Regions from separate parts of the Homo sapiens genome. Here all the other regions are reported to be linked to region 1. Evidence: microRNA targets listed by miRTarBase, many of them from high-throughput screens and not tested one by one. Region 1 holds a microRNA gene; each other region holds the end of a gene's coding sequence.
The links. Region 1 holds the annotated microRNA hsa-miR-181b-5p (AACAUUCAUUGCUGUCGGUGGGU, at 2,989-3,011, shown strand). A microRNA usually pairs through its seed, bases 2 to 8, with sites in the 3' UTR of a target mRNA and lowers its output. Matches are read on the target gene's strand: a 7mer-m8 pairs with bases 2 to 8, a 7mer-A1 pairs with bases 2 to 7 and ends in A, and an 8mer does both.

Region 2: the mRNA of CCNK is a reported target of hsa-miR-181b-5p. Seed matches in the 3' UTR shown: 8mer at 6,253-6,260.
Region 3: miRTarBase lists SRGN as a target of hsa-miR-181b-5p. Seed matches in the 3' UTR shown: 7mer-m8 at 6,441-6,447.
Region 4: miRTarBase lists SLC35G3 as a target of hsa-miR-181b-5p. Seed matches in the 3' UTR shown: 7mer-m8 at 1,549-1,555 and 7mer-A1 at 1,809-1,815.

What each region holds. Positions count from the first base shown.
Region 1 is chr9:124,690,737-124,698,496 of GRCh38, forward strand. MIR181B2 (microRNA 181b-2) reads left to right here and starts at 2,974; the gene lies at 2,974-3,062. All of the region lies in intron 2 of NR6A1 (nuclear receptor subfamily 6 group A member 1), which reads right to left. It overlaps MIR181A2HG (MIR181A2 host gene), which reads left to right. Exons shown (of 2, transcript NR_038975.1): 2 at 7,582-7,760. MIR181A2 (microRNA 181a-2) reads left to right here and starts at 1,706; the gene lies at 1,706-1,815. RefSeq lists an enhancer at 4,286-4,831.
Region 2 is chr14:99,509,928-99,517,687 of GRCh38, reverse strand. It overlaps CCNK (cyclin K), which reads right to left. Exons shown (of 11, transcript NM_001099402.2): 11 at 5,248-7,531. The coding sequence ends at 6,906. It overlaps CCDC85C (coiled-coil domain containing 85C), which reads left to right. Exons shown (of 6, transcript NM_001144995.2): 4 at 505-600; 5 at 1,402-1,500; 6 at 2,353-7,760. The coding sequence ends at 2,442. Among named protein-coding and RNA genes, the nearest start is that of CCNK, 32 kb to the right of the region's middle. RefSeq lists enhancers at 4,382-5,382, 5,383-5,882, 5,883-6,384.
Region 3 is chr10:69,103,305-69,111,064 of GRCh38, reverse strand. It overlaps SRGN (serglycin), which reads right to left. Exons shown (of 3, transcript NM_002727.4): 3 at 6,260-7,194. The coding sequence ends at 6,945. Among named protein-coding and RNA genes, the nearest start is that of VPS26A, 17 kb to the left of the region's middle.
Region 4 is chr17:35,186,592-35,194,351 of GRCh38, reverse strand. It overlaps SLC35G3 (solute carrier family 35 member G3), which reads left to right. Exons shown (of 1, transcript NM_152462.2): 1 at 1-1,832. The coding sequence starts at 45. The coding sequence ends at 1,061. It overlaps UNC45B (unc-45 myosin chaperone B), which reads right to left. Exons shown (of 20, transcript NM_001267052.2): 20 at 5,009-7,760. It also overlaps the pseudogene SPICP2. Among named protein-coding and RNA genes, the nearest start is that of SLC35G3, 3.9 kb to the left of the region's middle.

The DNA of each region.
Region 1 (7,760 bases):
ACTTTATCCTTGCACCGAGTATATAAACCCCTTAGCCAAACTCACTTAAAAAACCCAAATGTGTGCTCAAACTTGCTTGATGATAAAAACTAAAGAACTTAAAGGAATGAGGATGATGAAGGCCATTATGCCATGATACACAATTATTTCAAATACAGTGGGCAACACCCCATGTCATTCCAGAAACCTACCTTTCTGTAGTTTTTCAAGTCTGTGAAAAGCATTCTTTTTAGAATGCTATGAATTTAAGGAATAATATTTTGTAAGCATCTAAAGGTTTGGTGAAGTCAAAATCAGTATTTTTTTTAAAGTCTAAATATTTATCCAAATAGTATAAGGCTTGACATCGCTTTATATTATTGGACCAAGAGGAAGACTTTTTAAAATAAACCCATTAAAAAGTTTTAAACATATTACACAGTTACAGTTGCCTGATTTTTTGTGTGTGTATACAATTTACTGTCATAACACTGAAAACTCAACAAAGCTGGCTAATGCAGAGTTTTGACAGAGGGTGAATTAAACTGATATAGAAGGTAAACAGTTTACATTCAAACCTAAATCTCAGTGGTTGATATTTTTTCTTTTAACGTGTACCATTTGGCTGCTTTAAAAATGAATTTGAGACCAGTCAGCCTTTAGTATTTAAACCTAAAGCAAATAGTAATAACTATCCCCATTTAGAGATTAACTTCAATTCAGCAGGCAGTTCTGTAAGCCCTTTTCCTATTAAGTATTCCTAGATCTGTCCCATTGTAAATCACATATTCTGAAGATTCATATTATTAATTCATTTTTCAAATTTTTCATCACAGACATTCAACAGAATCAAAAATAACCACTATGTCCTATAATGTACTGGTATCGTTTCAGCCAGAACAAATGACATCTGACATTTTAGTTACACTCTGTGTTCTCAACTAAGAAGAAATGCAAGCTTTACATTAGGTGGTGGGTTTTTGGTTTATTTTTTGCTTTTTCAATATGGAAAATAGCTTGTGGACTATCACTAACACCTCTGTGGTAACTTAGTAATGCAGGATCTCAGCAAAGGAGATCATCAATCATGGAGGTCGAGGTTTTTCATCTTCCCCTATGACCTCACCTATAGACCTACCTGCTATTATTATAGGCAAACAAGTAGAAGAAATTTACATGTTTGACTTTGGCTCTGCAGTGATGGGTCTACTCCTAGATATCAACAGTAAGTTCTGTAGTAGACAACAGAAGCAGTATGATGAGTGAGCACTGGAAACATGAAGTCCAGTATTCAAATTCTGGCTTATAACCTTGGCTCCTGGCAATGTAACTTTAGGCAAATCACTTCAAGTTTTTTCATCAGGAAAATGTGGGTTGTTGAGAATTTAATGAGATAAAATATACAAATCCTAGTATATAGCAGATCCCCAATATATGTTAATCTCTTACCCTTGTTAACAATTAAAATACTACTGCAAAATCAGGTATTTTACATTTTTAGAATCACAAAATAATACCATTCAAAGACATTTTCTCAGACATTCATTTGAGTCTGCTTGTACAAATTACTGCACAGTCTATCCCACAGTTCATTAGTTCTCTGCTGCACACAAATTGATTTTATAATTTAAATACTCTCGACTTGAAACCCAGAGAGGAATGTAAGAGCATCCATCAGCGGTGGTCTCACTGCTCACTGGTTCTTGGGATGTGGATGGGAGAATGAAGAAGGGCTATCAGGCCAGCCTTCAGAGGACTCCAAGGAACATTCAACGCTGTCGGTGAGTTTGGGATTTGAAAAAACCACTGACCGTTGACTGTACCTTGGGGTCCTTACAGACGACACTACATTTCCTGAAGCAAAAGAGCAAGCTGTACCTTCACATGTCACATGAGTTCACCAGAAATGGTCCTGCAATCCCCCAAATGTGGTCCAGTGAATTTTATTCCTACTGCTCACTGTTCCTTGCTTTCTGTTGTGTGTTTTATTATTATTTGTTTGTTTTTACAAAAAAAGTGTTTCATTTCAACAAGGTAAGGAGCAGTCCATGATGATATCTAATGTACCTACATGTCTCCTAGATATGCACCATTCTGGTGAGAAACAGGACGTAGCAAGTAAAAATTTATTAAAAATACGTATTTTGTTTTGGAATAAAATCCAGTTAAATAATTACTCCCATTTCTCCCACATCCTCTCAAAATTTTTAATTAGGGGCAAGGGGAGGATTTAATAAGCAAAAATAGCACAAAATTATCCAATTGTGACAGTTCTTATCACATTTCACTTTGAATTATAGTTAATATGGTTAATTTTTGATATCCCAGTTAGAGCATGAGCTATTGCCTTACTAGTGCCCACATATCCCCACATATGCTTATTTAAATGTTTGCTAAATTCAAGCAAAAACTTAGCCCTGGAGTCAGTCAGATCTGGGATGAATCTTGGCTCAAGCCCTTAACTAGTTATTTGACCCCCTAAGCAAGTGTCTCAGTTTTCTCACATATAAAACAGAGGCTAAGAGTACCTATCATGGAGTTTTGAGACTCAATGAGATAATATATAAGGTGCTTTGTACCATTACTAGCCCACAGCAAATGCTCAATATATGTAAGCTGTTATTATTAAACTCCAACATAATCTGCTAATTTACCTCAAAAAAGCACTCATACTTCTCAGTTCAAAACAAAGAGGAAAAGCAGGTCCCTCAGCTGTGGTTTACAGGTACTAATATGCAAGCACTGCCTGTGTGGCGCAGTGCTACCTGTGAGGTTCTCCAAGCACTCCTTCCTTCTCTGAACCACAGCTTCCTCATCTGCAATAACCTCCCAGCTCCAATGTCAATGTTATGGACACCTGTGTGGGCCCTCAATCATGCAGATGGCTGGTTACTAAGGGAGAAGCCAGACACACAGACTTCAAAGAACTGAGATGGAAAAGAAGAGCCAGGAGTCAGCCAGGGAGGGCAAAGGCAACCCCACCAACTGAAAACACTGATGGCTGCACTCAACATTCATTGCTGTCGGTGGGTTTGAGTCTGAATCAACTCACTGATCAATGAATGCAAACTGCGGACCAAACAACCCAAAGGAAGCAAAAGCATGTGCAGAGAGTCGCCTGAGTGCAGCAGCTACTGCTGTGAGTGGGAGCTGCTACTATTTCCAAAACACTAGCTAAAGCTTTTCTTGTTCTCCTTGGTTCTAACATGGAGTAAGTTCTCTAAATTCCTAGTACTTTTCTCCTTTTTCAATAGTCTAGATTTAAGGAAATGATATTTTATAGGAAGAATTAAATACATATCTGGATATCACATCACATTTTAAAAATCAGTACATTCAGAATTTCTAAACAGAATCATATGCTTATTATTTAGAAATTCAAATACAAAAATATACAAAGTAAAAATTGAAAATCCCTTCAATCATCATCTGCAATCCATTTCCTCGGAGGAAAACATGTATAATTATAATAAACTTATTAAGATAATAAATATCATAACTAGAATTTATTTTATATCCTTGAAGACCTTTATCCATACATACACAGATAAATAGCTGTAATTTTGCATGTTTTGGGGGGAGAGTGGCTTAGACAAAAATAAGCTCATTTTTACCTATTGTTCTATAATCTATTTTGTTATTCAGCTATATATCATAGACTTCCACAACAGTCTTTTATGTACTCGTCATTCTTTTAAATGGCTATATAGTATGACTTAATATGAATGTTCTGGTTATTATTCAGATGTACATCAATATTCTCTTTTGACAAAAACTATGAGGCTCATTCATTCTAACCTTTGCAAACCATGTCCCTCAAACAGGAAAAACACCTAAGTGAGATAGAAGATGTACATTTTTCTTAACAAAAAATTTAAATGTAGTATCAACTCTCTAAATCCTGTAACATGAGATAAGCCACTAAATCCCATGTTAAAGAAAGAAAAACAAGGCCCTTGGTCATGAATAATTTATCATACACTTAAGTCTAAGAAGAAGCAGATTCTCATAGCAAAAGTCAAATAAGACAGTAAGAGAAGAGTCTTGTCAAATTAGCCTTGACAATTAAGCAAGCCTTAATTTGACAAGGCTTTCCTGTCAAATTAGGAAGGAGAAGTGATGGGGTAATGAGACAAGAACCAGAAAGAGAAATCAAAGCCAAAAGAAAAATCTAAAGAAAACTATGAGAGTTCAGAGAAAATATCAGGTTCAAGCCAGTGTTTCCCAAACTTCTTGTACACCAGAATCATCTAGAGTTGCTTTTAAAATGGCAAATTCCTGAGCCCTACTCTAGACGAGGTGATTTTGGGTCACTGGAAGCTGGAAGCAAAGTAAATAAAGTTCACTAGCTTAACATCGGCTTCCTGCCCCCATCCCACCACCACATTTCATGTCATCCACTTTTCAACTATTGCCCAACCTTTTGTGTCACCACCTGAAATCGCCACTATTCTGCTGAGTGCAGACAGGTAGAGTCACATTTGTGCTGCTTTTAAGTATCTCCAGACTACATAAAATTTTGCACCATGTTTGGTGGCCAAATATACATCAAATTGTGTCTGATGTTTTATGGAAATGAATGGATTTGGATTTACGCTATCTAAAAAACTAAAACCTACCCAAAGAAATTACCAAAAGGTTTTTTTGTGTGTGTTTTTCTTTCGTTTGTTTGTTTTTTTGAGACAGTCTTGCTCTGTTTCCCAGGCTGGAGTACAGTGATGCGATCTCGGCTCACTGCAACCTCTGCTTCCTGGGTTCAAGTGATTCTCGTGCCTCAGCCTCTCAAGTAGCTGGCCCGCCACCACACCCAGTCAATTTTTGTGTTTTTAGAAGAAATGTGTTTTTAGTAGAGCCATGTTGGCCAGGCTGGTCTCAGACTCCTGACCTCAAGTGATCCGCCCGCCTCGGCCGCCCAAATTGCTGGGATTATAGGCATGAGTCACCGCGCCCGGCCCGAGGGGGTCTTTATAGAAGAGTTTTTTGTGAGACTGGTAGACACACAGAAGGTACTCCACGCAGTCTTGTTTTTCAAGATGCTGTGCATTCTAGGCATTTATTTTTAACCAATTATTTCCAAAATTTCTGAAAACATTAGAAAAGAATGTCTGACACGTACTTTGAAAAATGTACACTTGAACAAGCATGCTATTTATTTACAGACTATTACATAGTCTTTAAATATGCCAATGAAACAATTATATATTTCATTAAACCAAATCCAAGTTTTCTCTTGGATAAAACTAAGTACTACAAGAAGGGAGACAATTATGTAAGTTAAAGGGTGTTTTCTGCAGATAGGCCTCAAAATAAATACCTGTAACAGAAAAATTACATGGCATGTATAGGGGACAGGAAGAGAATAGTCCAGAGACTGTATTAGGGAGTCATAAGGAATGGCACTGAAAAGGTAAAAGGACATATTACAGAAGGACTTGTGAGCAAGGCGCAAAGTCAATTAGTCCAACAGAGAGCCGTTTTAAATGCTAAACTCAGCAAGGAGACAATGAAAGCAAGACTGGGAAGAGTCACTAAGCAGATGAAGTGAGGGGAAGAAAAGAGAAAAAAGAGAACTTTCTTGCACAAGTTAGCAGGGGTAGAACTGAGTCAACAGGAATGGAATGAAAGGAAAGGTTATCTCAAAAAGGCATACTTTGGCTTTTGTTTTTCAAAATAAAAGCCTACTGGCTGACCCCCTTCCATCATCCTGTTCGGTGTATAGCCTCACAGATATTTCAAGATACTTAAAATGCATGTATTTATACTTAGAGAAAATAACATCACAAATTATACATAATGTTCTCTAGCTTTTTTTTTTTTTTTTTTTTGAGATGGAGTCTCGCTCTGTCACCCAGGCTGGAGTGCAGTGGTGTGATCTCGGCTCACTGCAACCTCTGCCTCCTGGGTTCAACTGATCCTCTCACCTCAGCCTCCAAAGTAGCTGGAACAACAGGCACTCACCACCACGCCTGGCTAATTTTTGTATTTCTAGTAGAGATGTGGTTTTGACATGTTGGCCAAGCTGTCTCGAATTCCTGACCTCAAGTGATCCGCCCACCTCAGCCTCCCAAGTAGCTGGGACCACAGGCACGTACCACCATGCCTGGATAATTTTTTGTATTTTTAGTAGAGACAGGATTTTGCCATGTGGCCCAGGCTGGTCTCAAACTCCTGACCTCAAGTGATCCACCCGCCTCAGCCTCCCAAAGTGTTGGGATTATAGGCGTGAGCCACCGCACCCGGCCTGAAATCTTTCTTCACTTAAAATATTGTGGCCATCTTTCCATATCGATATATCAGAACCACCTTCCAAAGAACTGGCTCAAACAGAAAAGAAAGCAAAGAGTCAAGAATGATGCCAAACTTTCCTGACTAGATTAGGAGCCTGGAGTGTACTAAGAAAGAAATGGGCAATTTCACAATGGAAGAAAGAGGATTCCACTTTTGGAACAGATATCAGAACAAGGAATGCACATTTATGATTCATAAGCATGGATCTGAGAAAGAATGATCTAAGTGCAGAAAGAAAAAGGTAACAAATACTTATTGGACACCTAGTGTATACCTGGACTGCAACAGGAGCCAGGAGACATGGAAGAAACAAAAGTATATAACGTAAAAGGCAGAACTAATTCTAACGAACAAATAGCTAATTGCAAGTGTGAAGAGCTCTGCAGAAGATAAAAGTAAGGTACTATGAGAGCAAATAATAGGAGGGACCAATCCAGTCTTGGTGGTAAGAAGGGTCAGGGAACTTCCTTGAGGAAGTGATGTATAAGTAAAGACTTCAAGGGTATGTGTAACTACCTTGGTGAAATAGAGTAAGCATTCCAAGCATAGAGAATGGATGGTATGTTGTGTAGGCCAAAGAAGCAGTGTTTTTACAAAACAGAAATTGTGACTAAAGCACATAAAAAGATGGTGAAAAAGTCATGAGACAAGGCCAGAAAAGAAGGTAGGATTTAAAAAAAAAAAAAACAGATTACTAATAGTTTTGGAAAGAACAATTTTGGCGTTCTAGTCATTGTGGAAATAGATTTCTGGAAAGGTAGTGATGAAGAGCTTGGGCTAAATGAGGGTAAAAATCTCAGCTGTTACTTAGCAACTATATGAACTTGAGCAAATTACTTAACCTTTAAATCTGTGTCATCTGTAAATAGGAGATACAACAATAGTATTTGCTTCACAGGGCTGCTTGAAGATTAAGAATACATGTAAAGAATTTCACACAAGATCTGACACACAAAATATTAAGATCTTAGTGTATGTGCATGTGTTGTGTGTGTGTTTTGTAAGCGCTGCCAAGCATGACTGGCTGATAGGAGACAAAAAGCAGACAGGAAGTTCAAACAGACTAGAAGCAAAGACGTTAACAACTGTGATCTCAAAGTTGTAGAATTATAGGTAATTTTTATGTTTATTATTTATACTCTTATAGATCTTCCAAGTATTTACCAATAAGCATAAACTATTTCAACAATTAAGAAAAAGTTAATTTTAAATCATGTCTTTCTACTCTGGTTTCTCTTCAGATCATATAAATCTTTCGCCTTTTAAATCATGTATTAAAAAAAAAGAAAAAGGAAAAACAAAGATTTCTTTTAGATGCAGAATCTACCTACATTCGGCTGAAAATCAGATGGAAGAATCCACAGAGGAAAGGAAGGAAAGGCGAACTGTCCTGTGGAAAGCACAGCTGCAGGGATAGTAGAAAGTAACAGGCTCTCGATCCGTGGGAGGTGGTCACTTTGGAGGACAGATAAGTCATCCTCAGAGAACGAACA
Region 2 (7,760 bases), not on the chromosome of region 1:
CTGGGAGGTGGCAGCTGGGAGGCAGGCCCCAGGGAGTGCTCAGGGCGAAGCCGGCCTCGCCCACCGGTGGCTCCAGGGTGGGCAGGGGAAGGGAGTTTGGAGTCAGGTGCCAGGGTTAAGTCCAGACCTTCCTGGTCTTGCTGTGATCTGGGTCTCTTGCCCTCCCTAGGCTGAACTTACTTTCCTTGCAAAACAGACGCTAGGTCTTATCTGTGGGGTGTTGTAGAGGAGCCTGAGAGGTGTGGGTGGGCCCTGGACTGCCCCTCTTGCCTCTGTGCTATCAGGGACCATTTCATCTGCAGAAGACCTGGTGGGCGGGACTGGCCAGACTGGCTGTGGGCTCCTTGGGTCTCCATCCTCACACCTGCCTCCTCTGCCTCACCCCGGTCCCCTTTTCCTCCTGCCTGGGCCCTGGCCCCTCAGAATGGGGGCCTTGTCTGAGCCACCGGTCATTCCTGTGGGAGCCAGCCAGGGTGAGCTGAGATGTGTGATTGCCTTCCCCAGGGCCCGGCCTGCCCCGCACCTGAGCTGCCCTCGCCCCCCTCTGCTGGCTACAGCCCTGCAGGACAGAAGCCCGAGGCTGTCGTGCATGCCATGAAGGTGAGGGCCACTACCCGCTCCCTCAGAAGTCCTCAGATGCTGGGTGCACTGTGAGACTGTGGGACCTTTGCACCTAGGGGTATCCAAGTGGCAGGGGTGGGAGGTTTCATCTGTGTGTGGGTGGCTGGGTGACCATGGCTGCCTGGAGCACTGTGAGGTTGAACTCAGAGGTGGCAGTCATAAGTGTGTCACCTGTCTGCCATCCCTGAGCTACTGCACCTAACAAGACTGAGGCCTGGGGTCGGGGAGGGCAGGCACCCAACTAAGGCCAGAGAGAGAGGGGCAGGAGTGGGGCTAGAACTAACCTCAGGTCTGCCAGGCCCAGCCTCTGCAGGTGCAGACTGGTGAGTCCGATGGGCTCCGGTTCCTCCAGGCTGTGCACACCTGAGCACAGTCCCCACTCCCATGCCCCCCTTCCTCCTACGTACGTGCCCCATGACATCCCACATGCATGCACGGCCACGCCTACTCACACCCCCTCCACGTGGCGAGTGCCCACTCATCTCCAGCGGGCCCTGGGTTGCAGTGAGTCCACCTGTCTGAGGGTCTTCCTTGCCCAGCCTGTCTACTTCCTCCCGGGTGGCCCAGCCATGAGCTGCTTCCCTTGTAGGGCATCCAGTGTCAGCAGGGTGAGATGACAACCTGCCCCTCAGTTTTTTCCACGCTTGTCCCCAGGGGCCCAGCGGCTCAGGGTCCTCAGCTTTGGTTCGCAGCAGGGGAGGCTGAGGATCAGGGGCCAGGTGACTTGCCCGAGGTCTGCCGGTGGCCTCTGCCCCTGACCCCGAGACCCGTTCCCTTCAGGTCCTGGAGGTACACGAGAATCTGGACCGGCAGCTCCAGGACAGCTGTGAGGAGGACCTGAGTGAGAAGGAGAAGGCCATCGTTCGCGAGATGTGCAACGTGAGGCTTCCAGGGGTGGGGGGCAGAGGCTTGGCACTGGGAGTGCGACCAGGGCCACCCAGCATGGCCATACCCTTCCCCATGTGGGACTCCATTTCTCGAATGCTCAGCGAAGGCTGGGTGACCTTGGATAGCTGGGGGGAGGCCTCAGAGGTGCTAGGAGCCCTGGCCCGTTGTCATCTCGCTGCCCCCTGCCCTTCCCAGAGGGCCCCTGGTGTCTGCAGATCCGCCCTCCCCAGGAGTGCCGTGCCTGGGGTTCTGGATAGAGCTTGAGCCCCCCACCCCCCCGGGACTGGTTTGTTCACCCCAGGTGTTCCCTGGGTGCTGGCCCCCGGGCCTCTCAGCTTGCTGGTGCCCCCTGTGGCTGCTGGCTGGGCAGATGGTGCTCAGAGCAGGAGGTCCAGGTGGAACCCTCCAGCCCACCAGGCTGGGGCTGCCCAGGAGAGCTCCGTGCTCGACCCAGCTGAGCACCATCGGCGGTCTCCTTGGGGGTGCTTGCAGGAGCCATCGGGGAAGGAGTTTCATAGGGTCTGAACCCAGGACTTAAAGGGGGGGCGAGAGGCTCTGAACTGTGCAGCCCCTCCCCCGCATCACCTAGTGGGGCCTGTGGACCCCACTGGACAGCTGCAAGGCTGAGCCACACCCCAGCAGTGACCTGCTCAGGCCCGATAGTTAGCGCGGCATGCAAAGACCTGGTGTGGGTGTCTCTGGGCCTGCAGTGGCCTCCGTGTCCCTCCTGGCCCCATGGCTCTGAGGACGTGGGTGATTCTGCCGTGATGAGGCGGCGGATGTGCATAGGCGGCAGGTGGACGCGGGTGAGTCCCACCACTCACATCTCTCTCCTCTCCACAGGTGGTCTGGAGAAAGCTGGGAGATGCAGCCAGCTCCAAGCCCTCCATACGGCAGCACCTGTCTGGGAACCAGTTCAAGGGGCCTTTGTAGGGCCACTCTTCTGTGGACGTGGACTGGCCCTGCTGGGGGTCCCCAGGGGGAGTTTCAGGCCCCAGACACGGGCAGGACCTCCAGCCCAGCCCCTGTCTTCTTCCTCTGTGGTGAACTGTACATAGGACGCTGCCCGCCCTGGCCCAGCTGCCATGGGTCCGATGCACTGGCCCAAGCCGCCATCTCCCGCCTCATACACCAGCAACCTGGGAAGACGAGACGCTGCGACTGTTCCTGCAGCAGAGCGGCCCGGACGCCTCATTCCCCCTCTGGGCCCTGGGCTCCATGAGCAAGAGGCTGCAGGCTGCTTCTGAGATCCAGCCTGGGAACTGTCCAGGCTCCTCTGTCCTGCCTGGGATGGAGGGGCCACTCATCAAACCCTCTACTCCCCGGCTGCCACCCACACTGGACAGAGACCACCACTACCTGGGTCTTGACGCAGGTGGCACCACTTCTTGCCCAAATGCCGTGGCCTGGCCCCAGGCCCCCCAAGCACTGGGTCCCCGGCATGTGGACAAGGCCACTCACCACATCTGTGGCTGGCTGGAGGCTGCCCTGGGCCCTTCCTGTGACCCTCAGCCTTGGAGGTCAGGGTGCCCTCACACCTGGGGATCTGTGCTCAGCCACCCGATGCCCGCTGCTCCTTGCTTTTGGAGGTCATCCCCCTCCCCCCCAGTCTCTGCAATGTCCCCCTGCCACCCTGTCCAGGCTATGCCCTTCTTGGGCTCCTCCTGCCCCATGCCTGAGGCACGTCCCTTTTCGTGGTTTACATGACAGGCCAGTAACAGGAAGGGCCTGGGGAGAGTTTCTGGGCTGAGCCACATGTGATTTTCCTGATGGGCAGCACTGGGCCACAGCTGGGGCTCTGGTTGGCTGTGACCTCCCCCAGGGCCTGGCTGCATCTTGGGTCCCTGTGGACAGAGCTGTGTAGGCTGCAGATGAGAGTTCTGTTCTTTTTGGGAAGGAGCGTGTCTGGCCAGGTTCTGCCTTTAGTTTGTGGTGTGACCTTTAGCAGTTCACTCAGCCTGTCTGGGCTCTTGGTGGAAACAGGTCTCTGAGGTTCCTTTTCGGCCATGCTTATGGCTCCAGGTCATCCAGCGCCACAGGGCAGGGGTCCTCACTGAGGGGGCGTGAGCCAACAGCCGACGGCTGAGGGCGGGCCGGGTGGAGCTGAGTTCTGCTGCCTTGCAGTCGCTGCGGGTGGAGAGTTGCCTCCCCACTCTGAGCCCGTGTCCTCAGTAGTAAAATGGGCAGCATAAGGCCCTCCTCACAGGATTCTGGCATCAAGTGAGATCTTCAGTGTAAATGACCATGTATAAACTGTAAAGTGCAATAGAAAACTGTGTGTGTGAGGAAAGTAAGGCCTAGAGGGGGTGATGTGTGGCACATGACAGGGATTTTGATCCCACAGCTGCAGCACGGGGACAGGCCGCTTCCCCACATCCGCTCATGCCACTGTAAGCAGCCCTAGCTCTTGGGTCCAGGACCTCACCAGGTCCTCGTCAGACTCCTGTGCTCTTCCAGGGGCTGCTCAGCCCCACCTGAAGAGCCCAGAGAGGCTGTCTTCCTACCCAGCAGGTCTCATGCAGGCCCAGGGCTGGGGATGCAGGCAAGAGGAGGGAGATGGCCGCCCTGTCCCTCTCCCTAGCTGGCGGCTCTATTCTGAGCAGTTCTTGCTGCCCGTTTGCTCTCAGGGGAAAGGCTCACGCCCCCCATCTTAGCCCCAGGGGGGTAAGTGGGTGCTGGTGATGGGATGGTGTGGCGCTCCTGCCGTGGGTGTTGCCAGGAGGCTCTTTGGGAAGGAGTGTCGCCCGGTCAGGTGGTGCGCTCCCGGTCACTAGGGGTGTACACGTGAAGTTGGGTGAACACCTGCTGCTCATGGTACCCAGTGATTCTTGCCCGAGTGGGCAGCTGAGCAGAGGCCCCTCTGGGTCTTGCAGTCCAAAGAACCGCAGAGTAGCCCAAGGGCTGTGGGTCCATTTTGAGTGGCAGCCAAGTCTGGGAGCCCGTGTGCATCATGTTTGGGTCAGGTTGGCGTGGCCACCACTGAAATAAGCAATAAGTACGGGCTCCTGGTACCTGCGGATCTCCTGCAAACAGGCCCAGAGAACAGCCTTGAAGCCACCTTTCCCCTCAAGGGGACTGACCCTGTCTTTAATGCTGCAGTGGCATCCAGGGATCAGTGGAACATTGCTTTGAGAACCCTCCTGCTGTTACGGAGGCAGCACAAAGCTGGTGACCCCTGAGCCAACACGGCACTGGGATGGCTTTCTAGGACAGAACCCTGTCGGCGACTGTCACATCTCAAACTAATAGCTGATTTTAAAAGCCAGCAGCAGCGACGCCATGTACCTGAGTACAGGTGGCAGTTGCAGAGCCGTGGGCTGTAGAAGGTCAGATGGGGCTTCCCACAGGGGAAATCTGGGCATGCTGTAGCTCAGGGTGACTCCCAGCTCCGTCACTAGCAGGGCGACCCCCTTCCTTCTGGAGCCTTAGCTCTGAAAGCCCCCAGTGGGGGTGCCCTTTCAGATGCCCCCTTTCCATTTCAAAGGCTCTGACTCTTGATCTTGAAGCCGGACGCGGCACTGGCACTCGGCTTCAGTTTCCACTGTGACAGATGGAGGTCTCCTTTCGCCCCAGCCCAGGTGGCCAAGCCCATCCTGGCCTCAGAACATGCTGAGCACATTTTGTAGGGTGGCACCTTTTTATCCAAGTTACTAGCTACACATCAGTGTTTAAAGAGAAAAAAGTGACCTTTCATTTTTTTTTTCTTGAAACTTGAGGAAACAAGATACATACTACTGATTTTTTTTTTTTCTTAAAACTAAATGCATGACTGCAGAGCGGTAGAGGTGTATATTTTTCATACTGTGGGGCAAAGTATTTGTGCTGCTTTTTGGAGATGGACTGGAACGTCTGGTTTCTGTCCCCGGGCCCGGCAGCTACGTCTATTTTCTGTAGAAGGTGCCACAGTGAGACCTGGAGCCACCCCTTCCTGCCCTGGCGCCGTTTAGAGCTGGGAGCCCGTGGACTCCCGGCCTGTTTCTACCTTCTATTCAACCACTCTGACGTGGGGAGACAAGAAGAAATAGAACTTTTTGATAGTGTGGTAAAAACATTGATTTGAACTATTTTAGTAAAAGGAGTAACAAACAAGATTGTGATAGTGTCTACTTTGAGCTAGATAAATAAAGGCCTCTTTGTGAGCCTCCTGGCTGGGTGCTCAGTGCTTGTTTCTGTCGTGGGTGGCAGGGTCAGCAGGCAGAGACAGGGCCAAGGCCCCTCAAGCACCGCAGATGGGGGCTCAGTCGGGGCCCCTTCCACAGACAGAGCCGTGGCCCCTCAAGGTGGACAGTGAGGCCGCTGCTCCTCCAGCTGCCTCTGTCTCATCACAGGCCAGAAGTGGAAAGGGTTTCAAATCCAAGCCCCCGGGTTCCTGTGTGCGTTCTACGCAGCAAGGCTTCAAAGTTTCAAACTGGTTTGGAACTCAACCAGGTCCTCCAAAGGAAACCAAGGCAGGCACAGGATGGGGGCAGGCTGGCTTGGCAGGCAGCTGTGCGGATCCACCCAGAGTGCCTTGGGAGGCAGTGGGGTTGGCTGTGGCTGCTGTGAGCTGCAGCCAGGCCTCTCCCGCGTCCCCAGGGTCTGGAAGGAGGGCCTCTGCACATTTTATAAGCCACAGACTGCGAAGGCCTGGAGCCCCACCTTCCACCCATAACAAAGAAAGGGATAGTTTCAGAACTGCTTTTATTTGGATAACTGACTGAAGGAGTCTCATTTGTAACCAAGATGGAATTCACAGTATGTTGTTACATTCACACTTAAAAAATATATCTCTATGTACAGGAATTTGCAAAGAGATGTAAACATACATTAATTTCCAAGTACATTTCTCCCCTTCTCCCTGGAGGAAAAAAAAAAAGCCATCCAATGAGGCAACCCCTTCAAAATAATTTTAATACAAAGGATGCAAACATCTATAAATGAAAAATGTGGTTCTTCTGCCCCTTCTGGGTGTCATGGGAGAGAATGTCACCGAATGAAAATGACAACAGCTTGGCTTCAGATGGAATTGGACTATTTAAAATTGAGTTTCCAGGAAAAATAGGCACTGATTTCTAGAAGGAAATTAACTCCTTACCGAAGCTATTTATTGAGCCAATATGGCTGGTTAACGTCCTCACTAGTATAAAGTAACCCAGTGCAGGACTCTCAGACATTAGCTGAACCAAGTGTACACAGTCAGACTGCAAGGGCACTGATGAGGCTACTCTGAAAGCTGGTTGTCCCCGTCCTCTAGGTGTGAGGACCACTCTGATTTTATCCCAGGGGCCCGGTCCATTCTTCCCATACTGCAACTGTCGTGCATTATACAAGGTACCCTGCTGCTTACCCACTTCAACTACTCTGCAAGTCGATTAGAAAATCTTGTTAAAAAAACAAAGAGGGAAAAAAGGCTCACGTTATCTCATCCAGGCTGCCCGCCCCAGCCCCCCAACTGGAGGCATGCCGGGTGGGGGAATGGGCGGGGGCACAGGAGGCTGTCCTCCAGGGGGGACGGCAGGAGGTGGGTAGCTGGCTGGCGGCAGGCCCAACCCTGGAGGAGGATGAGGGGGGACTGCGTGGGTAGGCGGGAGGCGTGGGGGTGGGGGTGGGAAGTTGGGGTTGTAGGTGGGTGGGGGTGGGGGGTAGCCAGGAGTAGGGGGTGGGATGGCAGGTGGGGGGAAGGAGGCTGGGGGAGGAGGCACAGGTGGCGGGGGCGGGTTGGGCGGGTAGACATGGGGGTGGTAGGGCAGGTGTGCAGGTGGGCCGTAGGCGGGGGGCAGGGCACCGTAGGAGGGTCCCTCGGTCTTCATCATGGACTGCAGGCTCTGGTAGCCCTCTCCAGACATGTAGGAGCTGGTGGTGGACATCCCGGTCATGTAGCTGGAGGGGGGTGGGGGCGGGGGCCGGTGTGGCAGCGGCGGTGGCTGGTGCACAGGGGCCGGGTGGGCCGGAGGGGGAATCTGGACTTTGGGGAGGTCAGTGGCATCCACAGGGCCCGGCGGCTCAGCCTCACCTAAGGCAGCAGCGAGGGGAGGCTTCCGGTCTGCAGGAGAGAGACGCATCAGTGCCCGGCCTCCGCCAGCAATGGTTGCTTTTTCAGTGCCTCCTGGCCCTTCAGGGCCATCTTTACAGAGGAGCAGGGAGCAGCTGCCCGCCTCCTCTGTGGCCCAACGCATGGGCCCATGCCCCATGTCCTGATGCCACCAGATGTCTCCCCACCATCTGTCAAGAAGGCCCTCCACCCTGTCTGCGACGACCTGGGGTTTTCCCTC
Region 3 (7,760 bases), not on the chromosome of region 1:
TCAGCAATGAGCTCTGTTGCTAGCATACTGGACATTTGGCAACATCAGTAGCTGGATCAATCTTGGTCAGCGGGAGCCCATGTGTGGCCTCCATCACTGCCACTGTGGCCACTCCTTCCTAAGCTCATTGTGCCAGTTTTAGGGTGGCCCATGACAGAGGCTGACTGACATCTGTCCAAGTCATTTTGTCTACCTGGTTGTTTAGTGCCTCTTCTGTGATGGATGTTTTCTGGTGGGCATTCACATTTGATACGTACATCTTCACACTTTGTCTTCTCTCATTGGTCCATCCACATGCCTTTACCCTGAGCTGCTTCGTGCCCAATCTTCCAATCTTTCTGTTTTAGACCCCTTATCAACTGGGCAAAACAGTCACCACAGTCCATGCAAATGAGTATCTTCCAACCTCAGGCTACTTCTCTCTCTACACAGAGTGGATGGCCAGGAGCACCACCCAATGCTCCTGCTCACTGGGAGGATTTCCCCTCAAAGCTGCTTTTCAAGTCCACTCCTGAATGGCATTGTAGTGTAGCTGACATCCACTTTTGGCTTGCTCCCATATACCAGACCAATCCATGTGTGAACCAAGCTGGAGTTTATTCCTATCCTGGCAGTTGGTCATTAGGAAGCCCTCATACAGTCATAGATGTGAGCCCAGGAAGAAATGCTGGTGCATCAGTGGCAATGACATGGGGGTCTGGTCAGTGACCACTGTGATTTTCTGTGAGATGTCCAGCCAGTTCAGGTCTCTTTAGATGGTACTATGACAAAGAGTGGGAGAGTTAAAATAGTCCTGGGAATAGACTGTAAATATACTGCCGTCTGTTCCAAGAGTACGTAAACTCTTTCTGATCCTCTTTTTTCTTTTCTTTTCTTTTTTTTTTTGACAGGGTCTGGCTCTGTTGCCCAGGCTGGAGTGCAGTGGCGCAATCTCAGGTCACTGCAACCTCTACCTCCCAGGCTCAAGCCAACCTTCCACCTCATCTGCCTGAGTAGCTGGGACTACAGGCGCATGCCACTACAACTGGCTAATTTTTGTATTTTTTGTAGAGACAGAGTTTCACCATGTTGCCCAGGTTGGTCTTGAACTCTTGAGCTCAAGCCATCCATCCACCTTGGCCTCCCAATGCTAGGATTACAGGCATGAGCCACTGCGCCTGGCCTCTGATCCTCTTTTAAAAAATGGAGAGATGAGGTCTCGCTATATTTCCCAGGCTGGTCTCGAACTCCTGGGTTCAAGTGATTCTCCCACCTCAGCCTCCTAAAGTGCTGGGATTATAGGCATGAGCCACTGTGCCCAGCCTTATCCTCTTTTTTTGATAGGGATATAAAAGAAAGCATTTGTCAAATAAATGACTATTAGGTATCTAAAGCTATGTAACTCTGCTCTAGCAAAAGTGTTCCACCTGGGGATGCTGCTTCAATAGAGCTACTACAGATGCACCTCAACTTACAGTGGGGTTACATCCCAATAAACCCATCATAAATTGAAAATATTTATTTATTTATTTATTTATTTATTTTTGAGTCTGAGTCTCACTCTGTCTCCCAGGCTAGAGTGCAGTGGCGCAGTCTTCGCTCACTGCAACCTCCGCCTCCCAGGTTCAAGCAATTCTCCTATCTCAGCCTCCGGAGTAGCTGGGATTACAGGTGTGCACCACCGCACCCAGCTAGTTTTTCTATTTTTAGTAGAGACAAGGTTTCATATTGGCCAGGCTGGTCTCGAACTCCTGACCTCAGGTGATCCGCCTACCTCGGCCTCCCAAAGTGCTGAGATTACAGGCGTGAGCCACCACACCCAGCCAAAAATATCTTAAGTCAAAAACACATTAAATACACCTAACGTATCAAACATCATAGTTTATTTAGCCTAGCCTACTTTAAGTATGCTCAGAACACTTACATTAGCTTACAGTTGGGGAAAATAATCTAATAGAAAGCCTATTTTGTAATAAAGAGTTTTAATGTCTCATGTAATGTATTGAATACTGAAAGCGAAAAACCATGCTCGCTAGTGCTGCCCAACACCGCCAGAGAGCATCACATCACATATCACTAACCTGGGAAAATGTCAAAATTCAAAAATTGAAATTTAGTTTCTACTGAATGTGTGTCACTTTCACACTATCATAAAGTCAAAGAATCATTAAGTCAAATCATTGTAAGTTGGGGACCCTCTGTACTCGGTTGAATTTGTAATAGTCCACTAGCACTCTCCATTTGCTTTTTGTGAGGCCCAGACTGGTGAATTAAATGGAGGTGCATTGGGGACCAGCATTCCTGCGTTCTTTGTTTTTTGTTTTGTTTTGTTTTTGTTTTTGTTTTTTTGAGACAGAGTCTCACTCTGTCGCCCAGGCTGGAGTGCAGTGGCTCGATCTCGGCTCACTGCAACCTCCGTCCCCCGGGTTCAAGCGATTCTCTTGCCTCAGCGTCCTGAGTAGCTGGGATTACAGGACCCTGCCGCCACGCCCAGCTAATTTGTGTATTTTTAGTAGAGACGGGGTTTCACCATCTTGGCCAGGCTGGTCTTGAACTCCTGACCTTGTAATCCACCTGCCTCAGTCTCCCAAAGTGCTGAGATTACAGGTGTGAGCCACCACACCCGGCGCGTACCACCATACCCGGCTAATTTTTGTATTTTTAGTAAACATGGGGTTTCACCATGTTGGTCAGGCTGGTCTCCAACTCCTGATCTCGTGATCCGCCCATCTTGGCCTCCCAAAGTGCTGGGACTATAGGCATGAGCCACCACGCCCAGCCACCATAGTGTTTTTTTATTGAGGCAATTGCCCTATGCCTCCTGACCATCTTGATCTTTCTGGTTGAATAATGTGGTGGTTAATTTTAGATGTCAACTTCACTGGATTAAGGGATACCTAGATAGGAGGTAAAGCATTATTTCTGGGTGTATCTGTGAAGTTATTTCGTCAGGAGATTAGAGTGTGAGTTGGTAGACCAGGTGCGGAAGATCTGCCATATCCCTGGATCCCTGGTCCAAGGCCTTTGGACTTGGACTGAGCTATGCTACCAGCTTCCTTGGTTCTCCAGCTTGCAGATGGCCTCCACCATCACATGAGCCAATTGCCCTAATAAACCTCCTCTCATATATCTAAGTATATGTCCTAGTGGTTCTGTCTCTCTGGCAAACCCTGCTTAATACAATAGATTGAGCAATACTTTTGCTGGCTGTGCAACTACATTGCCTCTAGAGATGCCATCTCCTATCTCAGTGCCCATGAGGCTCCCCTGGATACATCTCTGACCTTGCTGCTCATTAAGATAACTGCACCTCTTGGCTTCTTGGCTGGACGCGGTGGCTCATGCCTGTAATCCTAGCACTTTGGGAGTCCAAGGCAGGCAAATTGCCTGAGCTCGGGAGTTCGAGACCAGCCTGGGCAACACGGTGATCTCTACTAAAATACAAAAAAAAAAAAAAAAAAATTAGCCAGGTGTGGCAGCGTGTGCCTGTAGTCCCAGCTACTCAGGAGGCTGAGGCAGGAGAATTGCTTGAACCCAGGAGGCGGAGGTTGCAGTGAGCTGAGATCTCGCCATTGCACTCCAGCCTGGGCAACAGAGTGAGACTCCATTTCCAAAAAAAAAAAAAAAAAGGTAACTGCACCTCTTGGCTTCTGATGGTTGAGCACTACCACCTGGTCTCTATTATTTTGGTACCCTTTATTCCCACTGCTATTAATAAGCCCAGTTATGTAACAACATCAGCCCTGCCTTTCAGAGGAAAGCCACTGCAGATGGCTCAGAGGTGCTGATTGCTCTCACCAGGCTATTCTTTATTGCTTTGGCCTTCCTGCAAGACAGTCATCTGGTGGGTTTGCAAGGCTTATATAGTCCATTCATTCTATCATGTGCATTTCCTTAATCCTATTGACCCCTTTTTCCACTGCCTGGCATGACAATTCTAGTATTTCCACTTCACTTAAGTGTGGGCTGTCACTTTCTCCAAGTGTCTAAGAGTCATTTTAGCAGAGTCTCAACACCTTCTCCCAGGGTTCTTGCCAGGGCATTAAAACCTGTATCCCAGGAGGGTACACTCACATTGCTAAACACTCCCTTATCCAAGTTTGTGTTCTATCTCCGTCCCTGGATCAAGGACTTCCAGAGTTAAGTCTTACAGACACCCTCTTAGCTTTTAAGGTCCACGTTAGCTAAGTTCTACAGAACTTTCAGAGTATTTTACCTTTCCTCCTGAGCAAGCCCAAAACTCCCCTGTTGGTTTATACTGACTTAACTTTGATATTTATCTGCTGTCTAGGAAGGGAGGTGGGGACAGATCTTGAAGGAGAGTGAGTGTTGTCTTTAAGGGTAGAGGCCTCTTGATTGTCTTCAACAGGAAAGCACTAGTTTTTTTGTTTTTTGATTGCTGTTTTTTGTTTTGTTTTTTTTTTTTTTTTTTTTTTTTGAGACAGAGTCTCGCTCTGTCACCCAGGCTGGAGTGCAGTGGCGTGATCTCGGCTCATTGCAAACTCCACCTCCCAGGTTCAAGTGATTCTCATACCTCAGCCTGCCGAGTAGGATTACAGGTGCTCGCCACCACAACCAGCTAATTTTTGTATTTTTAGTAGAGACAGGGTTTCACTGTGTTGGCCAGGCTGGTCTTGAACTCCTGACCTCAAGTGATCTGCCCGCCTCAGCCTCCCAAAGTACTGGGATTACAAGCATGAGCCACCACACCTGGCCAGCATCGGTCCTTAAAGCATGGGACTCTTCTGTAGATTCAGAGGTTCAAAGGAATCTGAGGATTTAAAACTTGAATGTATCAGCCCAGATGTTTCCATCTCTCAGGGTCCTATTTTTCCCCAGTAAGGACTCTGAGCTTGCATAACAGACTGGGCTAAGCTGACAATTTAATATTCTTGGAACTCTGCTATTTTTTTTTTTTTTTTGAGATAGAGTCTCCCTCTGTCACCCAGGCTGGATTGCAGTGACATGATCTCAGCTCACTGCAACCTCCCAGGTTTGAACCTCCTAGGTTCAAGCAATTCTCCTGCTTCAGCCTCCGGAGTAGCTGGGATTATAGATGCCTGTCACCACACCTGGCTAATTTTTGTATTTTTAGTAGAGACAGTGTTTCGCCATGTTGGCCAGGCTGATCTCAAACTCCTGACCTCAGGTGATCCACCTGCCTCAGCCCCCCAAAGCGTTGGGATTGCAGGCGTGAGCCACCACACCCAGCCATCTGCTATTCTCATAAGTCCTGGGCCTGGTCCTCAGCTTTTTAATTCCTTCTATTACAGAAGAGAGTTTCTTAATATGCTGCCAAGGAGGCCCAATGGTTTTCACATTTAGCTTTTAATTAATTGTCCTTAGCCTTTCATTGTCTTTTTCAAAAGCATTAATTAAGTCCAGCAATAGCCAACCAATACCATTGTCTTTATTATTACTACTTGCCAACATTTCTCAGATGCCTAGTACATCACACCCTAGTGCACTCCCTTCCACTGGTATACCATCTTGGTTCATCACCAGTGAAAGTTTTAACAATTGCACTGCTATCTTGTGCCTGTGCTCATCTATGGCCAAGGATGGAGTCCTCATTGCCAGCCAGACAGCAGGCAATCTAGCTCCAAAATCCCATCTTAGCATCCATTTCTTATCCCTCCTGGCACAACCTGTCACAAGTTGTGTTCTCCTAGAAGCAAATTCTGAGATGGAAACTAGCAGAAAATTTCTAAGGGAGCACTCTCAGGATAGAAACCTATGAGCGGAATGGAAGGAAGTAAAATTGAGTAAAGAAGAAACTGAGCTACAAAGTAGTCCCAGCAAAACTGGAGCTGATCCTGTGGGGAGTTTTGAATCTGTATGACTATTCTGAGTTCAGGCCTTGATATGCCCACATCAGCCAGTCACTGGATGCAGGCTGCCCTGCAAAGCAGCATGACCTTGGGCAAGGTGGCTCTCTCCTGAGGAGATTAATTTGAGTAAGTACTCAGTTCTGGAGCTGGGATCTGGACAGTACAGAACAGAATCCAGGATGGTGATGTAAGGGGGCTTTTCAGAACTAAGGGGAACAGAGATGGAACTATCTTTCAGGTGAGGAAGTGCTTTGAGATATATAACCCTCTTGCTAAGGCATCATTGCTTTCTTCATTTGCTAGTTAGTATGATTTGATTCTGGTTACAAAACTTGTGTTTACTGTAGAATACGTTTAAAGTTGTTTTGTTGATAAGACTTCTGGAGAAACGTCTGGCCAAAAATAACTGTTTCCTGGGTTTAGAACAACAGATCCGAGACAGCTTAACCTTTGGTTATATTTCTGCTTTAATATATAGTAACATTTGAAAATACACAGATATCCAGGAAAAAAAGGTAAAGCAGTATGAGGTATTGACAGCACAACTGTGTTTTAATTTGGGAGTTAATTTGGGGTGTTATGTAACAGCAATCATACTTGTAGACAAACACATCCACTAGCTCTGCAAACACATTCAAAGGTAATAGTATATAGTACACTCCACCCTGTAAAATATGTCAAATACCCCCACTCTACAAATTCACTGTGTTTCATTATTTTTTTTTTTGTTTTTATAAGAAAAGGGGCATATCATTATAATTCACAATCCAAGTCAGAGTCTTAATTTAGGTATGAAATATTACCTGCCAATTTGCTTCTCAAGCTACTTTAAAAATATATATATATTCTTTAAAGCCATTTTATGGCCATGGGAATCTAATTAATTTCATAATGATGTTGGTTGAACATGATACCAAAAAATGCAGGTATTTTCAAGAACAATAAAATAGATAACAGCATTAAAGCATAATCCTTTAAGAATTCATGAGAAAAAAAAGGATGATAAAACTTAAGCTTCTTTTTCAGATGTTTAAAAATTTCTATAAAATTCTTTGTCCCAAGATTAATCATATAACCATGGTACATAAAATATGCTAACTACATTGCCTGGTGTCAAGGTGGGAAAATCCTCTTTTATAACATAAAATCCTCTTCTAATCCATGTTGACCCAAGTCCTGGCTGTCTGAGGGCAGATTCCTGTCAAGAGACCTAAGGTTGTCATGGAAAGCATCACTTTCGTCTACTAGTTGGTAATCCTGTTCCATTTCCGTTAGGAAGCCACTCCCAGATCCTGATCCAGAGCCGGAGCCGGAGCCGAAGCCTGATCCAGAGTAGTCCTCAGAAAGTGGGAAGATACGATTCAAGTCCTGGATTCTCGTCTTTCTGAAGTATGAAAGAAAAATGGGAAAAAAACCAGTGGAGTTTGATATGTGGGAAAGATAATTATAATAGTTTTTTTAATATAAGGAGATAAATACAGCCATCTAGTTGCTCAAATTAAGAGATTTAAAAGCTTCCCAATTATTCAATGTTTTAAAATCAACAAAAAAACAGGTCAAATGTTCCTATGTGTTTGCCTATACTTATTGCACCTATCAACTTCACATCTACCTATTGCAGACTTGCATAAACAGTGTTAATTTTGTTATCACTAGCATATACATTCTATATTTGAAATTTACTTAAGAAATCATTTTAATTTTTATTTTTGGAGGCAGAGTCTTGCTCTGTTGCCCAGGCTGGAGTGCAGTGGTGCCATCTCGGCTCACTGCAACCTCCACCTCCCAGGTTCAAGTGATTCTCCTGCCTCAGCCTCCCGAGTAGCTGGGACAACAGGGGTGCGCCACCATGCCTGGCTAATTTTTGTATTTTTAGTAGAGATGGAGTTTCACCATATTGGCCAGGCTGATCTCAAACTCCTGACCTTGTGAACCACCCACCTCCCAAAG
Region 4 (7,760 bases), not on the chromosome of region 1:
CCAGGCTCCCTGAGCCAGGAGGAGAGGAGAAAGTCCAAGGAAAGATGGCTGGCAGTCACCCCTATTTCAACCAGCCTGACTCCACACACCCATCGCCGCCCTCCGCTCCACCCAGCCTCCGCTGGTACCAGCGCTGCCAGCCCTCTGATGCCACCAGTGGCCTGCTGGTGGCCCTGCTGGGTGGGGGCCTGCCTGCTGGCTTCGTGGGCCCCCTTTCTCGTATGGCTTACCAGGCTTCCAACCTGCCCTCGCTGGAGCTGCTCATCTGGCGATGCCTCTTCCACCTCCCTATTGCCCTGCTACTTAAACTGCGTGGCGACCCCCTTCTGGGAACTCCTGACATCCGAAGCCGGGCCTTCTTCTGTGCCCTGCTCAACATCCTCAGCATTGGATGTGCCTACAGTGCGGTTCAGGTGGTGCCCGCTGGCAACGCTGCCACTGTTCGCAAAGGTTCTTCCACCGTCTGCTCCGCCGTCCTCACTCTCTGCCTTGAGAGCCAGGGTCTCAGTGGCTACGACTGGTGTGGACTGTTGGGCTGCATCCTAGGACTAATCATCATTGTGGGACCTGGACTCTGGACACTACAGGAGGGGACCACGGGTGTCTACACCGCCCTGGGCTATGTGGAGGCTTTCCTGGGAGGCCTGGCGCTGTCCCTGAGGCTTCTGGTCTATCGTTCTCTGCACTTTCCCCCCTGCCTCCCAACAGTGGCCTTCCTATCTGGCTTGGTGGGGCTGCTGGGCTCTGTGCCAGGCCTCTTTGTGCTGCAGGCCCCCGTGTTGCCCAGTGACCTCCTGAGTTGGAGTTGTGTGGGGGCAGTGGGGATCCTCGCCTTGGTCTCCTTCACATGTGTGGGCTATGCGGTCACCAAGGCCCACCCTGCCCTGGTGTGCGCTGTCCTACATTCCGAGGTGGTTGTGGCCCTTATACTGCAGTATTATATGCTCCATGAGACTGTGGCACCTTCTGACATCGTGGCGGCAGGGGTTGTGCTGGGCAGCATTGCCATCATTACAGCCCAGAACCTCAGCTGTGAGAGGACAGGGAGGGTGGAGGAGTGAGATAGAACTTGGGAGCCCGGGGGTTGGGAGGGACAGGGATAAATAAAGGCAAAGACTGAAGACAAACATGGGAGGAGAAGTGACTGGAAAAGAACTGGTGTGGGAGAGGGATACCTCTCAGAGTCAAGGGTGACTTGGGGACTTGGTGGAGAGGGACTACGTGGAAGACCTGGGGCCAGCCTGGGACCAAGGGATGTGGAGTCCAGGCTGGGTCCTAGAATCAGGGCATAACTAAGGGGTAAAGTCTGAGGAGCAGATCCAAAGGGCTGAGGCAGGGAGGCCGTGGGCCATGGGGAGGACTTCACTCAGCAGCAAAGAGAAGAGCATTGGGGCTGGAGTGTTCCGGCAAAGACAGAGCCAGCAGCTGCGCTGGGGGAGGGAAGCGTGCCTCCCCACCCCTCCCCTCACGGGGAAGGTTTCCTTTCCTCGTGCTTGTGCCCCCCGCTTGGGGTGGTGACGTGACATTGACATCAAACAAGGATTACAGTGAATGTGAAAAAAAAAAAAAAAGATACCTGAATAGACATTTCTATGACATTTTAAAAGCCATGAATTTATTTTGGCACAAATATTTTATCATATGCAGTCACTTCTTTGTAAATGATTTTTTGTAAAGTCATTGGATATAAAAGAGTGATTTTCCTCACCTGAGTACATGAAAAGAAAATGCTGAAATCAATGTATAAATCAAATCATCTGTACTAGCACTGTTAATCTAGAAGAAAGTGGTTGCATAGAGAAGAGTAAGAATGTAGACCAGCTTATTGAAGTAGGAAAAGAAAAAAAAAAGGAGCTTCAGAGGTAGGCTTTGCCTCTTAAAAAAATTAAAAACATAAGTCACTGTGTTGTGCTTGGGAGTTAGCAGCAAAAAAAAAAAAAAAAAATGAAGTCACTGTCTGTGAAAGGAAAAGAAAAAATGAAAAGAGTTTGCATCCATTGAAGTATGCAGAAAAAGAAAACAAGTTTTAAAATAAAATAAAATGAGTATAGTTGGGGGCTTAGCAATGGACATACAGAGTGGAGTAATAGACACCGGAGGCTCCAAAAGGTGGGCAGATGGGTGGGGGATGAGGGATGAAATCCTACCTATTGGGTACAATGTTCACTATTCTGATGATGAGGATGCTATGCAATATGCTTTACCACTACGCAATGTATCCATGCAACAAAACTGCACTTGTACTCCTAAATCCATAAAAATTTAAAATTGTCTTGGCTGAGACCTCTTTTAAAAAATAATAAAATAAAAAAATTAGAGAGAATAGTAAGAGCAGAGCAAGGACATTTAGTCTATAGTTTCAAATGGACTTAATCATTTGAAACAATAAAGTTTTTCATTGAATCTTCATAGAGTATTAAAAAAAAAGCTGCTCATTGGCAGAATTTCCCACTGAGTTAGTATAGATTACATGCTCTTTGATAAAAGCAGCAAATAAAGTTACTTGGTTTTTTTTCTCTTTAGTGTTTGCTTTAAGAGAAAAATCCTAAACTCCTTCAGAGGAAGGAAAAAAGAGACAGAGAGTGAGAAATCCTTAAAACTGTAGGGACTTCCAATGCCAGGAAACCATGAAATATGAGAGTATATTTAGCAATCATGGTGATTTAGCTCATGGTAATTGGCATATGTATAATTATAATTTGCATTCCAGTTATTTAAACTGAGATATTCCTGATCAGGTTTAACACACTTGGGGAAAGATCTCTTTCCCCAAGAAATAAGATGGAGAGAGTCTTTGGAGAGTGGCCTAACTGAACTGGTAAGTCAGCTTCCTCCGGATTTTGGTAATTTCCTCACTTCTTCCATAATTTCTCAGTGCCCTGGCCATTTTCTGATAAGTCATGGTCTTCCAACGGCCTTTTCTTTTCCGCCAAAGCTCGGCAAGTTTTCCTTTGTTTTTTGATACAAACGGAAAGATGCCTTTGATTTTATCTACCCACTGAATACAAGGTGCCATCTCCGGATTACACAGGGATTCGTGAAGGTATTCAAACAGTCTAAGCTTCTTCCTGCCTTTTCCCCACTTTTGCTGGAGAATAGTGGGTTGTACCAGCTGGTTTTCAGTTATGTTCTGCAGAGACTGATGAATGTTTCCTTCAAAATAGAAGTCCGCAGCACTGTTGATTACCGTTCTCCAATTACAGAGAGGTTCCTCTGTAGGCAACACTCCATAGCAGCTGGAATTTCCTTTGACGTGAGGACAATAATTGATTAAAGCCAGGTAATTTTTGTAATCTGGCGAGTACTAAAGATCTCCAGTTGAATGTTGCCTCAGTGCCTCAAAAGCATCCTCAAATGCTTGACCCAGCTTGTCTTGTTCAACACACGTCATGTTTCATTAATAAATTGACAATTTTGTTCCTTGGCAATTGTTGCAGGAAGACACTTCAACCCTTTATAGAGATATTTCATTAATATCAGAATTGTAAATTCAATGGTAGGCTGTCATGAAAATAAAAAATTATTTTCCAGCATGATGGTTCTGCCCATCAGTGTCCAATGCAGCATCCACTTGCATATGGTGGAAATAGCCTTCCCCTCCCCTGAAACACATGTCTGCCTCCCGCTTGGCTAACCTGTAACCTGCCATTGTAACAGCTGTCACGTTTGGCCAATTTTATGATTTTCATTGCCTTTTCTTGCCTTTTTGTACTAGCTACGCTCTTCGGTACAAAGTTGAATACAATTGGTAATAGCAAGTACTGTTATCTCATTCTTAATCTCGGGATAATTAAATATCACAGTGGCTATAGATTTTATACAGATAAACTTTATCACATTAAGGAAGCTTCTTTCTATTTTTAGTTTACTGAAGAGTTTTATCATGAATTGTTACTGAATTTTATCAAAAACTTTTCTTACGTCTATTGAGATAGTCATTATTTTATTCTTTATTCTGTTGATGTAGTACATTATATTGGTTGATAGTCTCATATTAACCAACTTATTGTTCTTAGAATAAACATAACTTGATTAATGTGTTATCTTTTTATATATTGGTGGATTTGGGGTGCTAGTATTTAGTAAAGGATTTTGTACCTATAGTCATAAAAGATACTGGTCTACAATTTTCCTATATGTCTTTGTTAAGTTTTGCTATCAAGCTATCCTCATAAAAAGAGCTGAAAGTGTCCTTTCTTTTATCTTCTTTGGAAGGGTTTGCATAAGACTGGTACTGTTTTGGCCAGACGCGGTGGCACACACCTGTAATCCCAACGCTTTGCGAGGCTGAGGTGAGAGGATTATTTGAGCCCAGGAGTTCAAGACCAGCCTGGTCTTTACAAAAAATAAAAAATAAAAATACTTGATGCACCTATAATATCATAGTGAATCTCCATTTCTATATAAAAAAAAAGTTTTTAAAAAGGAAAAGAAAAAAACATTAAGTTGGAGGACTAACAGTGAATATCAGCTACTCAGGAGACTGAGTGGGAGGATCGCTTGAGCCCAGGAGGTTGAAGCTGCAGTGAGCCGTGATCACGCCACTGCACTCCAGCCTGGGTGACAGAGTGAGACCCTGTCTCGAAAAACAAAAGAAAACAAAAGAATGGCATTGTTTCTTTCTTAAATGCCTGTAGAATTCACCAGTGAAACTAAATGGGCCTGAGTTTTCTTTGTGGGAAGGCTTTCCTTACCATCGTTGTTGTTATTACAAACGTAATTTCTCCAATAGGTATCATACTATTCAAATTTTCTATTTCTTCTTTTAACAGTTTAGTAAATGGTGTCTCAGACACTTAAACCTCTGTGACTCACAACCTCTGCTAACAAATTGGCAAACATCCCAAATGGAATCAACTTTACCAAAAAGTTAAGCTTCCTCCTTGGTGCTTCCCTTTTTGTTGGTCTCACTGCCTTAATGGCTCTCGGTGCCTTAAACAGATTGTTTAAGTTTTGCCCAGTTTTTCAATTTTTGTATGTCATGGTATTGTTTTGCCACAAGTTACTCTTACTAGGAACAGAAATTCTTTATTATTTACCTTTCACAAATGAGAAGACTAAGAGTCAAAGGGGTTAAATTTTTACAAAATATCCTTTTGGAGATATAAACTTTAAAACTGTATGCTTCTCAAATGGCAAAGGATTAATATGACACAGACCAAGTTCTCTGATAACAACATACTTCAGTTAAAAGTAATAATATAAATGATGAATTTTCCCATTATATGTTGGGAAACTAAGAAACATACCTCTAAGATATTTATAGATTTTCTGTAAGAGAATTGGTTGGAAAAACCTAGAAAGTTGGCAGGTATTGGCTGTTCCTTGCTGTTTTTGGGCAAACTACCTCAATAAAGAGATGATCTCAGGCTAGCATCTGCCTATTTGAAAGCATAGATGAAAAAAAAAAGAAATCTGCAAAGAAGGGCCCTCTTACAAGCAACAATATAAGAGTCTAGGCTGGAAAAGCCAACTACTTATGTAACCTAGGCAGTGGGAAACAAAGGTATTTGTCACAGCTTTTCTTAAAGGCCTCCCATGAAGACTTAGCCAGACAATGGGAGGCAGCCCAGTGGCAAAAATCAGATGAAGGAATTCAGCTTTCCTCTAGATCTTCTTGGACTATTTACAAAATATTCATGTTAAAGAATGTGGTCTCCCAGACTGGGCAACATAGTGAGACCCTGTCTCTACAAAAAAAAATTTTTTAATTACCTGGGGGTGGTGGTGTGTGCCTGTAGTCCCAGCTATTGAGGAGGCTGAAGTAGAAAGATCACTTGAGCCCAGGAGACCAAGGCTGCGGTGAGCCATGACTGCACCACTGCACTGCACTTGAGCCTAGGTTACAGAGCAAGACCCTGTCTCAAAAAAAAAAAAAAAAAAAGTCTCTCCAATCCAAACAAGATGAACTTTATCTAACTGGCCCTGAACGCCACTGGCAGATGTAACCTCATGAGATCAAAACGAGTAAGAGTGTGGCCCTGCCTGTGAAAGAGTTTCCTTTAAAGGAGCTAAATACACCCACTCAAGCCCACATATGAGGAAAGCAGGAAAGAAGAATTTGACAGAGGTCAAATCATGCCATTTATTGTGTATATTTTCAGAAGCACCACACCCTTTTGAATGTTGTCATTCTCTATCATAATAAGGATATGATGAATATAGTTTCCTGCTGTGAAACAAGCCCATGCAAGAGTTAGTTAAAATGTAGGCTGTATGTAAAGACCATTAGTGCAGAAAAGATCTGAGAAATTAAGGTTTTAGTTCTCTAGAGGTACAGCGGGTATTATGTTGGATTTGGCCCATACCGCAACAGTGCAACTCTCTGATAGTCTGTCCCTTTTCCAGCTGATGTCCCAGGCATATGTACACTTACATTTATTACACAACGGAACGTTGTAAATTGTTTTTATCAAGGACCGTAAATCTGAATGTCCCACCCTTTACCCAATGCTGAGATCAGAACTGTTGACCCTTCAATAAACGTAGGTAGAATTGGGACATACTGGAGTGACAGTACTAGATCTTAGCTATCTTAACCATGCTAAAAAGGCAATATTAGCAGAGAGGTTCTGATCTACAGCATATTACTTGTGTCATTCTTTTGTGGCCAAGCCTGACATACAGAATATGTTCTTTGATCTGCCCAGGGTACATTCTTTTGTGGTGGCACACCTCTTCCATTAATACCCCTAATCAGTCCATGTCAATTGGACAGGGATGAAGCTCATTTCTTCCCTAGACTTGTATATATGACCCAGGCCTGGCCAATTAGCATTCCACCTCTGAATATGATTGGTTCATAGATGGAAATGTGACCTGAGACATAGACATATCAGAGTCATCCCTGGGAACTTTGCCGGGTTATTGAGAATGCTCTTCTCTCTTCTATTCCATAATGAACTATAACAACTATGTCACCCTGGGGCTGCTGGGGACTCTCTTTCCTATCACAGGGAGAGAGCCTGCCAGGGAATGAGACAAACCTATAATAAATAAAAGACAAGATATGGGGAGGGGAAATGAGAGAGAGAAAAAGACACATCCATGGTGATGACATTTGAAACTCTGGATCTAACTAACAATGTCAGACCTTCCCTGGGTGGCCAAGATACATGAGCCAATGAATTATTTATTTTTTGTTTGAAGTACTTTGAGTAGATCTTATTTGTATTCATCATGTCCATCTTGCTTGGAAGACTTTCCCAAGCAAATTGCAGAGGTCATGCCCCACTGTTGAACATAAACTCTATTTCCATCACAGTGAAGTGATGGGAATGGGCATGGGACTGGGACAGAGCACTGCAGGTGAAACACACAGTTCTGAACAGACTGATTCAAATAGTGTGGGAGAGAGGTCATGAAAACAGCACAGATCAGCATCCAAATACAACAGCATTAACCTTTATATGCACACACCCGTTAGTTCCTACCTTACCACAAAATCCATTTTCCAAAATATAAAGAACTTCAACCTATTATCCTGGCCTTCAGAATGGGTACAGAAAGAATGATCCAACCTATTTCTAATCATGGGTGAAAATTATTCTGGGAATTTCTGAAACATGACAAATATAAGGAGACAGGAAGCAAGAGAGAGAGTGAAACATCCAAACTCTGTCAGGACAAAGGAGAAGACTCACAACTCAGAGAACAATCAAGTCTTTCCTTTATATTGAGACTTCATTGTCACTGCTATGATCCCTAGATGACCTGACTCTTCAGGAGAACCCAACCAACCCAGGACTCTGCACAGTACA